Linked DNA regions of Homo sapiens. The protein of the gene in region 1 purifies or fractionates together with the protein of each later gene. This does not show direct contact. Each region holds a gene or a part of one and is shown in the gene's direction. Other genes may lie near its edges.

Region 1 (3,744 bases):
CTCTTAGAAGTGCATGTATATGTGGAGGGAGGGAAAAGGGTCCTATAGAATGAGGGAAGACAAAAATGTTTTATTCCTGGCTAAGGCTGCCCAGGGGAAGGTTCTGACATTTCTCGAGATAAGAAGGGTTGGGGGGTGGGTGGGAACAGGGAGGGAATTTGGCAGGAGGACATGCTCCTGCTTAGAATAGACCTGGGGTGAGGGAGTGGTAAGGGGAAAAGATTACTGAGTCCCAGAAAAGGAAGTGGGAGACAGTTCTTGCATGCTGGGGAAATGAGACTGCGAGTATGAGGCTTGCTGAAATTTGAGGGAGAACAAAGTAAGACGCCAGGTAAGAGAACGTGGGGTGCGCATCCTGGGTAGATATTGGGAAGTGGGGGTACAATAGCAAGAAACAATGGATAGTCATGGGGGTGGGGGGGATAGGGCACTTAGAAAAGAAAGAACACAAGAAGGGCTGTTGGGAGGGAGGGAGAGGAGTAGAGACATACAGTATTTTTTAAGAAAAAACATATTTTTTAGGATTTTTTCTGGAGTTTGGGGTTTTAGTTTTTCTGCTTTTGTTTTCCACAAAATAAAAAACAAAAAAAAACTTTTTTTTTTCCTTTACACTCTGGCAACTGCGTGTACATGACTATCCTGCCCTAGACAGCCTCTCCCTGTGATGCTGCGTTCTTAATACCTAGAGGTCACAACTCTGCATATCCCTTGCCTGAAGGAGCCCAGCCCTAAACATGGGAGAGGAGTGTGACAAGTGAGCTCCTCTGGTCAGGGACTCCCCCAAGTCCCCACCCCCAGCCCTCCACCAGTTCTGCAATCTCAACACTTAGCCAGGTACCTCACAGTACAAGTGATTGGCAGTCGTGGGGATGCACATGAACTCTATTTGAGGGACTTAGGATCAGTGCTAGGGATGAGCTACAGGTGGCCAACCTGCCCACGGAAATTGTAAGCAGGAGTCTGTTTGGTCATATTTTGTCTGGGGTAAATAGGTCATGTCTTCAGGAAAGCTAAAAAAAAAAAAAAAAAGCTAAGTTTGGATTAAGGTGCAGGGAAAACTACAATTCCCAGAAAGCTCTGGAATAGTTAACCAAAGAGAACTACAGTTCCCAGAAGGCCTTTAATTGGCCTCAGGTGCCCCACCTGCCTGTGTCAAATACTGCGTGTGAAATCATACAGATCTTTTCCAAACTCGACCAAAACGTAATACCTAAAGGGATGGTACCCTAAATACAGCTATCGAGATTGTCTATCTTGGTGTATATCATTTATACTTAAATTGTCCGCTGGGCTATGACCCACGGAGTACCTGACTGTGCTTATGAAGTGTTCGGCAAAAAAGGTTTACTTACTGCAGTGTCACCAGTCAGTAATGACGTTCGGGCCGCTGGGCTTACCTGGATCCCTAGTGCGTGTGAAGGTGTAACACGCCTGATATAAACAGAAGAGACATTTAGCCACAGGTTTTCAGAAGGGCACGCTGCTCCAGGGGACATGAAGCAGCATGCTAGAACCAGCCAAGAATAAAGGTGTCCTCCGCGTCCCTATCGCCCCTTCGTGCTCGTTAGAAAGAGCAAAAAGGCGAGGCCAAAACTGAGGCCAAGCCTTCTATCTGGTAACCCAAAAACTAGAAAGGCAGAAAAGCAACCAGAGGCGGGAAAAGCCCAACCAGGCCAGAGGAAATACAGCCGCTGCCGAGAGCCGAGAAGTTCAGAAGCTCCGCTTGTTACCTAAAACCAGATGGGGACAGAGACGCCACACCTGGGCCCAGGCGTGTCTCGCCCTCGGTCCCTGCAGAACTGAGGCCAGGAATGACAGGAATTCTCCCTTGCAGCTCCCAGCTTAGGACAGTCACAGCCATCTCCGAGGCCGCTCTCAGGGGAAAATGGCCAAAAAGCATGTAGCGGCTCCTTTAAGGCTCCTCCTCGCCCTCCCTCCCTCGCCCACGTGACCCGGGGCGGCCGCGCGCCGGCTCGGCCCCCAGCGCAAGCGGCGATGGCGGCGGCGGCGGGAGCTGCAGCGGCGGCGGCCGCCGAGGTGCGGAAGGGGAGGGGGAGAGGCGGGTGCATGCCCGCGCGCGCGCCCGGGGGAAGCGCGCGCCCGTGCAATGCTCCGGGGGTGCAACGGGGCCGGGGGGCCCGGGCGGGACTTGCAGCAATCCAGGGGGCCAGCACCGGGGGCGGATGAGGGGACCAGGGTGTGGGAGGTGGGGGGAGTGGGCACGGAGGCGCGCGTGCAGCCGCCGGCTGCCCCTGAGTGGGCGACGGGCGCCGGGGCCCCAGGAGCACGCGTGAGGGGCACGAGGGGCCGTCCACCGGGCTGGGGGGCAGCGGGTGCTGGAGGGGTTGGTGCCCGGGGTCCCCGCGGCCTGGGGGACAAAGGGGGAGCGGCGCGTGCAGCCGGGAGGAGGGGGCGGGGCCGGGGCGCGGAGGCCCCGCCCCCTCCCCCTCCTCTTCTCTCGGCCCCAGAGATGCGGGGTCTACCGAGAGGGAGGGGGTTGATGCGGGCCCGGGGGAGGGGTCGTGCGGCCCCTCCGGGCAGCCGAGGCCGCGGAAGGGGGGGGCCCCACAGAGGAAGAGGTAGGCCCCGGAGCCTACTCTCTCTTCCCAGGGCCCAGGCATCCTGGACCCCCCAACTCTCTACTGGGCTGACCAGCCCTCCTGTCCCTTGTCTCCCCTCCCAGGGGGAGGCCCCCGCTGAGATGGGGGCGCTGCTGCTGGAGAAGGAAACCAGAGGAGCCACCGAGAGAGGTGAGTGCAGCTAAAACGGGCCCCAATTGGACCGTCACCTTCCCTAAACACAGGATCTCCTGAGCCCTTAGCTCTGAACTTTTTCTCTTCCTCTACAGTTCATGGCTCTTTGGGGGACACCCCTCGTAGTGAAGAAACCCTGCCCAAGGCCACCCCCGACTCCCTGGAGCCTGCTGGCCCCTCATCTCCAGCCTCTGTCACTGTCACTGTTGGTGATGAGGGGGCTGACACCCCTGTAGGGGCTACACCACTCATTGGGGATGAATCTGAGAATCTTGAGGGAGATGGGGACCTCCGTGGGGGCCGGATCCTGCTGGGTGAGAGGCTGGGTAGCCTGGGGGGTTGGTGGGAAATTTCTGACTCTTGCCTTCTTTCTTATCTTGCCTTTTGCTTGCCTGTTTTCTAGGCCATGCCACAAAGTCATTCCCCTCTTCCCCCAGCAAGGGGGGTTCCTGTCCTAGCCGGGCCAAGATGTCAATGACAGGGGCGGGAAAATCACCTCCATCTGTCCAGAGTTTGGCTATGAGGCTACTGAGTATGCCAGGAGCCCAGGGAGCTGCAGCAGCAGGGTCTGAACCCCCTCCAGCCACCACGAGCCCAGAGGGACAGCCCAAGGTCCACCGAGCCCGCAAAACCATGTCCAAACCAGGAAATGGACAGGTGAGTGGGATGGGAGAGATGGGATAATCAACCATAAACCTTTGGTGAGCTCTTTTACAGTTTCACTTAAGGCTTCTACTCCATTTACTCATTCACATATTTAAGCAAGGGGCTGCTGTGTGTCAAATATTAGGCTGTGCTTGATCTGTGAACCAACAGACAGGTTCCTCTCTTCCTGCAGTTTACATTCTTGGGTGGTGAAAGTTTGATGTTAAAGAGTCAATTATATAGTTAATGTCTTAATTACTCTTATGATAATGACAAGGTAAGGGAATTTCAAACCACTCTTCCTTTCTACCTCAAAGCAAGCCCTTGGGGAACTCATCTGTCACTG
Region 2 (3,744 bases), on another chromosome or scaffold:
CACGGGGCGGTCGGGCGGTGCCTGGAAGCTGCCATGCTTCTGTGACGCCTCAGAGCCCTTATTTCTCCAGTTGGCCCCGATGAGGCTTAGTTGCGTCATACGCGAAAGGAATGGGTGTTAATGAGCTTTAATCATCTGGTTCTGGGAAGGTCAGGGGCACAGAGTGGACTTTAACAGGTTTTAACCCTTTTCTTCCTTTGTTCTGTTTCTTTTCTCTTCACATCTATAATTGGAAGTAATGCCAGGCAGAGGGTTGGGGGCGTCCTACGTGAAACACTGGTGACCCCATCAGGGATTCCGGGCAGCCACGCGGTAGCCCAGGCAGGAAAGGGACAACCATGTTCCCAAAGTCCCGTGCTGTCATCTTGTGTCCTCCAGTGTCCTGGGTCCCTCCTGTCCCCCTGCCTCATGGAGCTGCCCTGGGGTCTCGGACGGTCTGGGAGGGTCTCGGGGGGTCTCAGAGGGTCTTGGAGGGCCTAGGAGGGTCGGGAGGTGTCTCGGTGGGTCTGGAAATGTCTTGGGGAGTCTCAGAGGGTCTGGGAGGTTCTCAGAGGGTCTGGAGATTTCTTGGGGGGTCTCGGAGGGTCTTGGAGGGTGTGAGAGGGTCTCAGAGGGTCTGGGAGGATCTCGGAGGGGCCTTGGAGGGTCTCGGAGGGGACTTGGAGGGTCTCGGAGGTCCTGTGCCCAAGGGAGATGGTAGTGGGTGTCCACAGTCTGTGTCCACTTGAGTCAGCGAGCTGAGGCACACACGAGTTGTCTTTCACGTGGATTTTTAATTTACTTTTTACAAATATCACAACATATAGACCAGAAAACCCCCGGCGGTCGGCCCTCGTTGGCCCGTGCACAGTGGGTGGCGTGGAGTGGGTTGTAGCCACGGGGCCGCAGTGGTGCAAGGCTGAGCACTTGCCTCTGTCTTGCAGGCGTCCGACCTCCGATCATGAACGGGCCCCTGCACCCGCGGCCCCTGGTGGCATTGCTGGATGGCCGGGACTGCACAGTGGAGATGCCCATCCTGAAGGACGTGGCCACTGTGGCCTTCTGCGACGCGCAGTCCACGCAGGAGATCCATGAGAAGGTACCACCACGTGGTCGCCTGGGGCTGGCAGAACCGCACGTTGGGGGGAGTTGGAGGGACGGGAGCACGGCAGGCCCGGGCCACAGCAGGTCTGGGTGCCACTGGGGCAGGAGCAGCCTCTGTCCCAGTCGTCCCGCGCCGTCAGGAGGTGGACACGGGGTTTTCCCTGGACACCATCAGGAGGTGGACATCGGGTTTGCCCTGAGCCCCATCAGGAGGTGGACACGGGGTTTTCCCTGTGCCCCATCAGGAGGTGGACACCACGTTTGTCCTGAGCCCCATCAGGAGGTGGACATTCGGTTTGCCCTGTGCCCCATCAGGAGGTGGACACGGGGTTTTCCCTGAGCCCCATCAGGAGGTGGACACTCGTTTTGCCCTGTGCCCCATCAGGAGGTGGACACGGGGTTTGTCCTGAGCCCCATCAGGAGGTGGACACGGGGTTTTCCCTGAGCCCCATCAGGAGGTGGACACGGGGTTTGTCCTGAGCCCCATCAGGAGGTGGACACGGGGTTTGTCCTGAGCCCCATCAGGAGGTGGACACGGGGTTTGTCCTGAGCCCCATCAGGAGGTGAACACCGGGTTTTCCCTGAGCCCCATCAGGAGGTGGACACAGGGTTTGTCCTGAGCCCCATCAGGAGGTGGACACGGGGTTTGTCCTAAGCCCCATCAGGAGGTGGACACGGGGTTTTCCCTGCACACCATCAGGAGGTGAACACCGGGTTTTCACTGAGCTCCATCAGGAGGTGGACACGGGGTTTGTCCTGAGCCCCATCAGGAGGTGGACACGGGGTTTTCCCTGAGCCCCATCAGGAGGTGGACATGGGGTTTTCCCTGAGCCCCATCAGGAGGTGGACACTCGGTTTGTCCTGAGCCCCATCAGGAGGTGGACACCGGGTTTTCCCTGAGCCCCATGAGGAGGTGGACACTCGGTTTGTCCTGAGCCCCATCAGGAGGTGGACACTCGGTTTGCCCTGTGCCCCATCAGGAGGTGGACACTCGGTTTATCCTGAGCCCCATCAGGAGGTGGACACTCGGTTTGCCCTGTGCCCCATCAGGAGGTGGACACTCGGTTTCTCCTGAGCCTCATCAGGAGGTGGACACGGGGTTTTCCCTGAGCCCCACACTCGGTTTGTCCTGAGCGCCATCAGGAGGTGGACACTGGGTTTGCCCTGTGCCCCATCAGGAGATGGACGCTCGGTTTCTCCTGAGCCCCATCAGGAGGTGGACACGGGGTTTGCCCTGAGCCCCATCAGGAGGTGGACACCGGGTTTGCCCTGAGCCCCATCAGGAGGTGGACATTCGGTTTGCCCTGAGCCCCATCAGGAGGTGGACACCGGGTTTGTCCTGAGCCCCATCAGGAGGTGGACATTCGGTTTGCCCTGAGCCCCATCAGGAGGTGGACACCGGGTTTGTCCTGAGCCCCATCAGGAGGTGGACACTTGGTTTGCCCTGTGCCCCATCAGGAGGTGGACACTTGGTTTGCCCTGTGCCCCATCAGGAGGTGGACACCGGGTTTGCCCTGAGCCCCATCAGGAGGTGGACACCGGGTTTGCCCTGAGCCCCATCAGGAGGTGGACACGGGGTTTGTCCTGAGCCCCATCAGGAGGTGGACACTCGGTTTGTCCTGAGCCCCATCAGGAGGTGGACACCGGGTTTGCCCTGTGGCTTCTTGATTCATTTTCAGTTTTTTCCCAGAGAGCAGGTCCTCGGGATGCCAGCTTTTGTGGCGGGGGTGGAGTAAGGTGCTTCCCCCGGCCCCAGTTGCGCGGCGGTCTTCACACGGGCGGTCTCGGCATTGCCCGCGGCCTGGCTTTGGTCCAGCAGTGAGCAGCCTTTGGGCAGCTTTCCTGATTCTTGTTTGCTCAGGAGACCCACAGGCTCCTCCGTGATGAGAACTAGGTTGGTCTGGCTTCTACTTGTAGCCAGGGATCAGTGATTCAGAGCAGCTTTTCCCTGAAGACAGACGAAGAAGCTGGGCCCCCAGGAGCTCACAGGATAGGGCCAGGCCCAGGCTGCAGCCTGGAGAGGCCTATAACCTGCAGGAACGGGCGGGCCTTGCCAACTCTGGCCTGGGGTGTTGGCTGTTCTGGAAGAAGTAGCTGAGAGGCTGAATTTGGCTTTGGTGGCATCACTGGCCTGCTGGGTGTGGGGCCCTGCCGGGATATCCATGGCCTGAAAGGTGACATCTGGAGTGAGGGTGACCTGGACTCTGACGCGCCACACGATCGGCACCCAGCCTGCTGATGTCCAGGAAACCTTGAATCTGGATTTTTGGGGACCCCGCACTGCCGGCCCCAGGTGCCTGGCAAAAGAAGTAAGACGGCCCCTTTAGAGGAAGACAGCGTCAGCCGAGGCCTCGGGTCATTTCTACAAATCACCATCTGGTGCGGGGTCCATCACATGCAAACAGAGGTAACCAGGCAGTCAAGGAGATGCGCAAAACGCAGAAGCCAGGGAAGCAGTGCCACCCGCAGGAGCTCCCCGTGCTGCCCACGAGCCGATCACCCCAGCCCAGCCCCCAGGAGGCTGGGCCAGACACCGACGAAGAGCTGATGACTCTGGAACGGGGCGTAGCAGCGTTAGGGGAGAAAATGAGATGCGGATCTGAGAAAACGGCGAAGCTGATCGGTGGAACTGAGGGGCGGGTTTACCAGCTGACCAGGCGG
Region 3 (3,744 bases), on another chromosome or scaffold:
CTTAGGTGTACAGTCTACTATACAATTGTAGCCTAGGTGTATAGTAGCCCATACATCTACGTTTGTGTAAGTACACTAGAAGATATTTGCAAAATGCTGAAATTGGCTAACAAGGTATTTCTCAGAAGGTATCACCATCGATGCATGACTGTATTTAGTTATGGTAGTGAGGAACAGATACCAGCAAAGGATCTGGGAAAGGTGAAACCATGAACCAAGACAAGAACTAGGAAGAGTGGTTTCTCAGAACCCAAATAAAGCTTTTCAAAGATCGAGAAGCGATAAACCCGACCGACACTGCTTCATTCAAAAAGAATGAAACTGTGGATCAGCCATTGTATTTGGTTGCATGGCTATTGCTGGCTTTCATAGAAGCTGTTTTGATGGAGTGGTAGGATGGACAAAAGCGTGAGTACCATATTCAAGAGAGAATGCAAGGTTCTCTCCCAAGAACTCTCAACAAGTTCCGCTGAAGAAAGATTAGCTGAGGTGGAGGAGATTGGAGAGGGGAAGAGAAAACAAATTACTTAGGGAATTTTGGGGGAACTTAGTGGGCAGCATTACGGGCAGCGCTAAGGAACCATTTAAAGTAAGACAAGTCCACACAGCTGTGTGCTTTTCTACAGTCTTGTTCAACTGCTGCATAACAACAGAATGTTGGAAGCAGGAATTAGTTTTAAAGTAAGATGGTATTGACGAGACGACAATAAAATACCTCTACTACAGAGCACAGCAATGTTCGGCCTGGTGGCTCACAGAAGCTGAGGCTCTTGAACGTCTGGGCACAGCATGAAAGCATCAAGCTTGAGAGACTGCAGGCCTTAACAAACTAGAAGTGCTAGAACGATGGTTCTAAACCAGGTCTTTTCTCACACAGCAAGCACAGCAATAGAGATTTATTTTATCTTATTTTTTAGACAGAGTCTCGCTCTGTTGCTCAGGCTCGAGTGCAACGGCACGATCTCGGCTTACTGCAACCTCCGCCTTCCGGGTTCAAGGGATTCTCCTGCCTCAGCCTCCCAAGTAGCTGGGATTACAGGCATGTGCCACCACGTCCGGCTAACTTTTTGTATTTTTAGTACAGACGGGGTTTCACCATGTTGGCCAGCCTGGACGCTAACTTCTGACCTCAGGTGATCCACCCCACTCGGCCTCCCAAAGTGCCGGGATTACAGGTGTGAGCCACCGCGCCCAGCCCAGTAGAGATTCTTTTAAAGACTGCGGTAGGTCGATAAAGGAGACATTGTGGCCTAGGAGCTTCAAGGTCTACAGACTGAACCCAGTTAGGGTAGGGCCCCTTTCCAAATCCAGAAATGGTATCTATTAATAGAAGGGCTCCCTCCGGGTCCCAGGGGGATGGACTACGGTTTTTAGCGCCGGAACTTACAACCCGAAGTTCTGCTGCTTGTGACTGCCTGCCGGAGAGACTGGCATGGTGGCGACCAGCTGGGGAGTGGTGCACCACCCCTTTTTTTGGCCGCCTCTGAAGTCCCTGTACCCCCAAGCTCCTCCGTTAGCGGCTCGGGCCGAGGCTCCGGAATGTTTGCCGGGCGTCATGGCGACGGTGGAGCCCTGGCTCAACAAGCGGCCGCGCGGTTGGCTGGCGGCACGAGGCCGAGGAGGAGGGCGGAGGCGGAGGGGAGGGCAGAGGGTTGGTGGAGCTGGAGGAAGCTCCGGACGACGACTGGAAGAAGGAGGCGGGCGGCCCGGGCCTCAGGCCCCTCCCAGGCTCTGAGTCTCCCGGCTGCAGGCGGATGGATGGGGCTTCTTCAGGCGGTGGCGGCAGCAGCGAAGGTGGCGGCGGCAGCAGCGGCAGCGGCTGTAAGTGCAGCCTCCACAAGCCATCTCTCCCCTTCTATTCCAGTTTGGGATGAGGGGCTCCTGAGGTGTCCTCAGTCCCCTTTCTCTCCTTCCCCTCCCCCACGGCAGTGTACCGCCCGGAAGACCCTTAACTTCCGGGGAGGGGCTGCCGCAGAACGCGCCTGGCTTGCTCTCCGCCGGCTGCCAAAGGCGCATGCGCAGCTTCCTCCCTCTGGCCATCGACTGCCTCCCAGCGCCGCCTTTTTGCCTTCGCGGTGGTGGCGCCGCGCTGGGAATCCGCTGCGGAGTGAGTTCGCCTCGCCCCGTTCGCTTCGGTCCCTGATCCCAGTCGGGGTGGGGCTAAGCTGACCACCCTGCTGTGGCTCCGCCTCTTTCTCCTGTATTTCCCTCACTTGTGTCCCATCCCCGGGAGGCTCTCGCTTGCACTGCAGCCTTTATGGTGAGCAGCGCCCTGGGCCAACTTGCCCTTTTCGGATGGAGTCAGGGAGGGAGGAGAGACTCGAATAGGGTATTACTGTAAGGAAACGAGGTCCTCCTAGCGCGTGGGAGGATCCCTTGGGACAGATGCCCGCCGCTCTTTACTCTTGTTCTTTCAGCTTGTAGTGGCTAGGTCCCTGGCCTGGAGCCTATCTGTGGTCCCTGCATGCTGTGTAACCTTGAGCGAGTCACTATCCCTCTCTGGGCTTCAGTTTTCCCTATTTAAAGCTTCCTCCAACGCTAGAATTCTGCATTTCTGCAGAAGAACTTATGTAATTACAAGATTGACTTGGCTATTGAGGCCGCTTCACCAAGATGACCCGGAGTTGACTGAACCTTCTTCACTTATGGGTGGAATGAGGCGACCTATTTATTGGGTCGCTTTTATTCCTTTATCATTAGTTACAAATTGCATGACTTAAGGCTCATTAAATGTTTTTCTAAAATTGTCATGGGATCCTTGTCCTGATTCCCGACCATCTTTTTAAAAATGCGAAACAGGGTGGATGGTGAGCTTGTATCATCGTTTCTGTCTCCTTGCTACTGAGGCTCTCTTTCCTTTGATCCAGATGGTGTGGTCGCTCGATTCTCCCAGTGCCTGGCTGAGTTTCGGACGTGGTTAAGAACCAACTGGTTGAGGTTCAATGCAGACAAGACGGATGTGATGCTGGTAGGCAGGGGTACACTTGGAGATTAAGGGAGGGAAAATCCAAACTCCCTCAAGTAATATAAGATTATATTACTCTTCTTATATGTTCCAGTGTTTGAGAACTGATGGGCCAAAAATTTCCAGAATTTGGGTGAGATAAAAATAACATGTCATCAATGTAAAAACCATAATCATAGTTTGTAATATTCTGATAAAATGGGGCCACTGGATAAAACTGTAAAAATTATGAAAAGAAAATCCAAAACTGTTATTTGAAGAACCAAAAGCCTATATAAGTGTTTTAGAGTGGCATTAATAACAAAAAATGAAACTAACGAAAGATGATGCTGATTGTCACTATAGATGTGGGGCTTCCAAATGTAATAGGCTAAGTTTTTTAGATGTAGGTATTTTCAACCAAATTAGTAATTATCCATAAAATTTTACCACCACATCATAAAGACATGGTGTAGGCTGTTGCTTTTAAATAAAAATTTCAGGAAATAGTTTATAAACTAATCTCAAAAGAGACTCATGGACGCTGAAAATTGTTAGATATAGAATTTTTTAGTTTTGGATGTGTTGTATTAATCTATTTCAGTCAGCTAACCCCAGAGTCTAAATTGTTATAAGTACAGTATTTTCTTGGTGCATTTTGAGAGGTACCTTTTTGGATTGCATAACAGATAGGTTTATATAGTATATATATATATGTTACTTGTATTTGAATCAGGTGTTGGTACTGAATAAAAGGTTATATTTCTTAGGTATATGTAAATTGCCAAAGAAGTTTGTTC

What was found.
Region 2: the proteins of EHMT2 (region 1) and CTBP1 purify together in Homo sapiens (affinity purification with mass spectrometry; 6 studies listed by BioGRID and IntAct, with this or other methods). This does not show direct contact.
Region 3: the proteins of EHMT2 (region 1) and MIER1 purify together in Homo sapiens (co-immunoprecipitation; 3 studies listed by BioGRID and IntAct, with this or other methods). This does not show direct contact.

What each region holds. Positions count from the first base shown.
Region 1 is NC_000006.12:31,895,929-31,899,672, reverse strand, and holds the start of EHMT2 (histone-lysine N-methyltransferase EHMT2), read left to right. Parts: upstream 1-1,974; 5' UTR 1,975-1,995; coding exon 1,996-2,037; exon of another isoform or gene 2,038-2,107; coding exon of another isoform or gene 2,108-2,683; coding exon 2,684-2,750; intron 2,751-2,848; coding exon 2,849-3,067; intron 3,068-3,156; coding exon 3,157-3,410; intron 3,411-3,744. UniProt on the Homo sapiens protein: Histone methyltransferase that specifically mono- and dimethylates 'Lys-9' of histone H3 (H3K9me1 and H3K9me2, respectively) in euchromatin.
Region 2 is NC_000004.12:1,235,517-1,239,260, reverse strand, and holds part of CTBP1 (C-terminal-binding protein 1), read left to right. Parts: intron 1-923; coding exon 924-1,078; intron 1,079-1,083; exon of another isoform or gene 1,084-3,744. UniProt on the Homo sapiens protein: Corepressor targeting diverse transcription regulators such as GLIS2 or BCL6. Has dehydrogenase activity. Involved in controlling the equilibrium between tubular and stacked structures in the Golgi complex.
Region 3 is NC_000001.11:66,923,275-66,927,018, forward strand, and holds the start of MIER1 (mesoderm induction early response protein 1), read left to right. Parts: upstream 1-1,715; 5' UTR 1,716-1,754; coding exon 1,755-1,821; intron 1,822-2,058; exon of another isoform or gene 2,059-2,260; intron 2,261-2,867; coding exon 2,868-2,968; intron 2,969-3,059; exon of another isoform or gene 3,060-3,098; intron 3,099-3,744. Other genes in the region: DNAI4 (dynein axonemal intermediate chain 4), read right to left, coding at 1,388-1,557. UniProt on the Homo sapiens protein: Transcriptional repressor regulating the expression of a number of genes including SP1 target genes. Probably functions through recruitment of HDAC1 a histone deacetylase involved in chromatin silencing.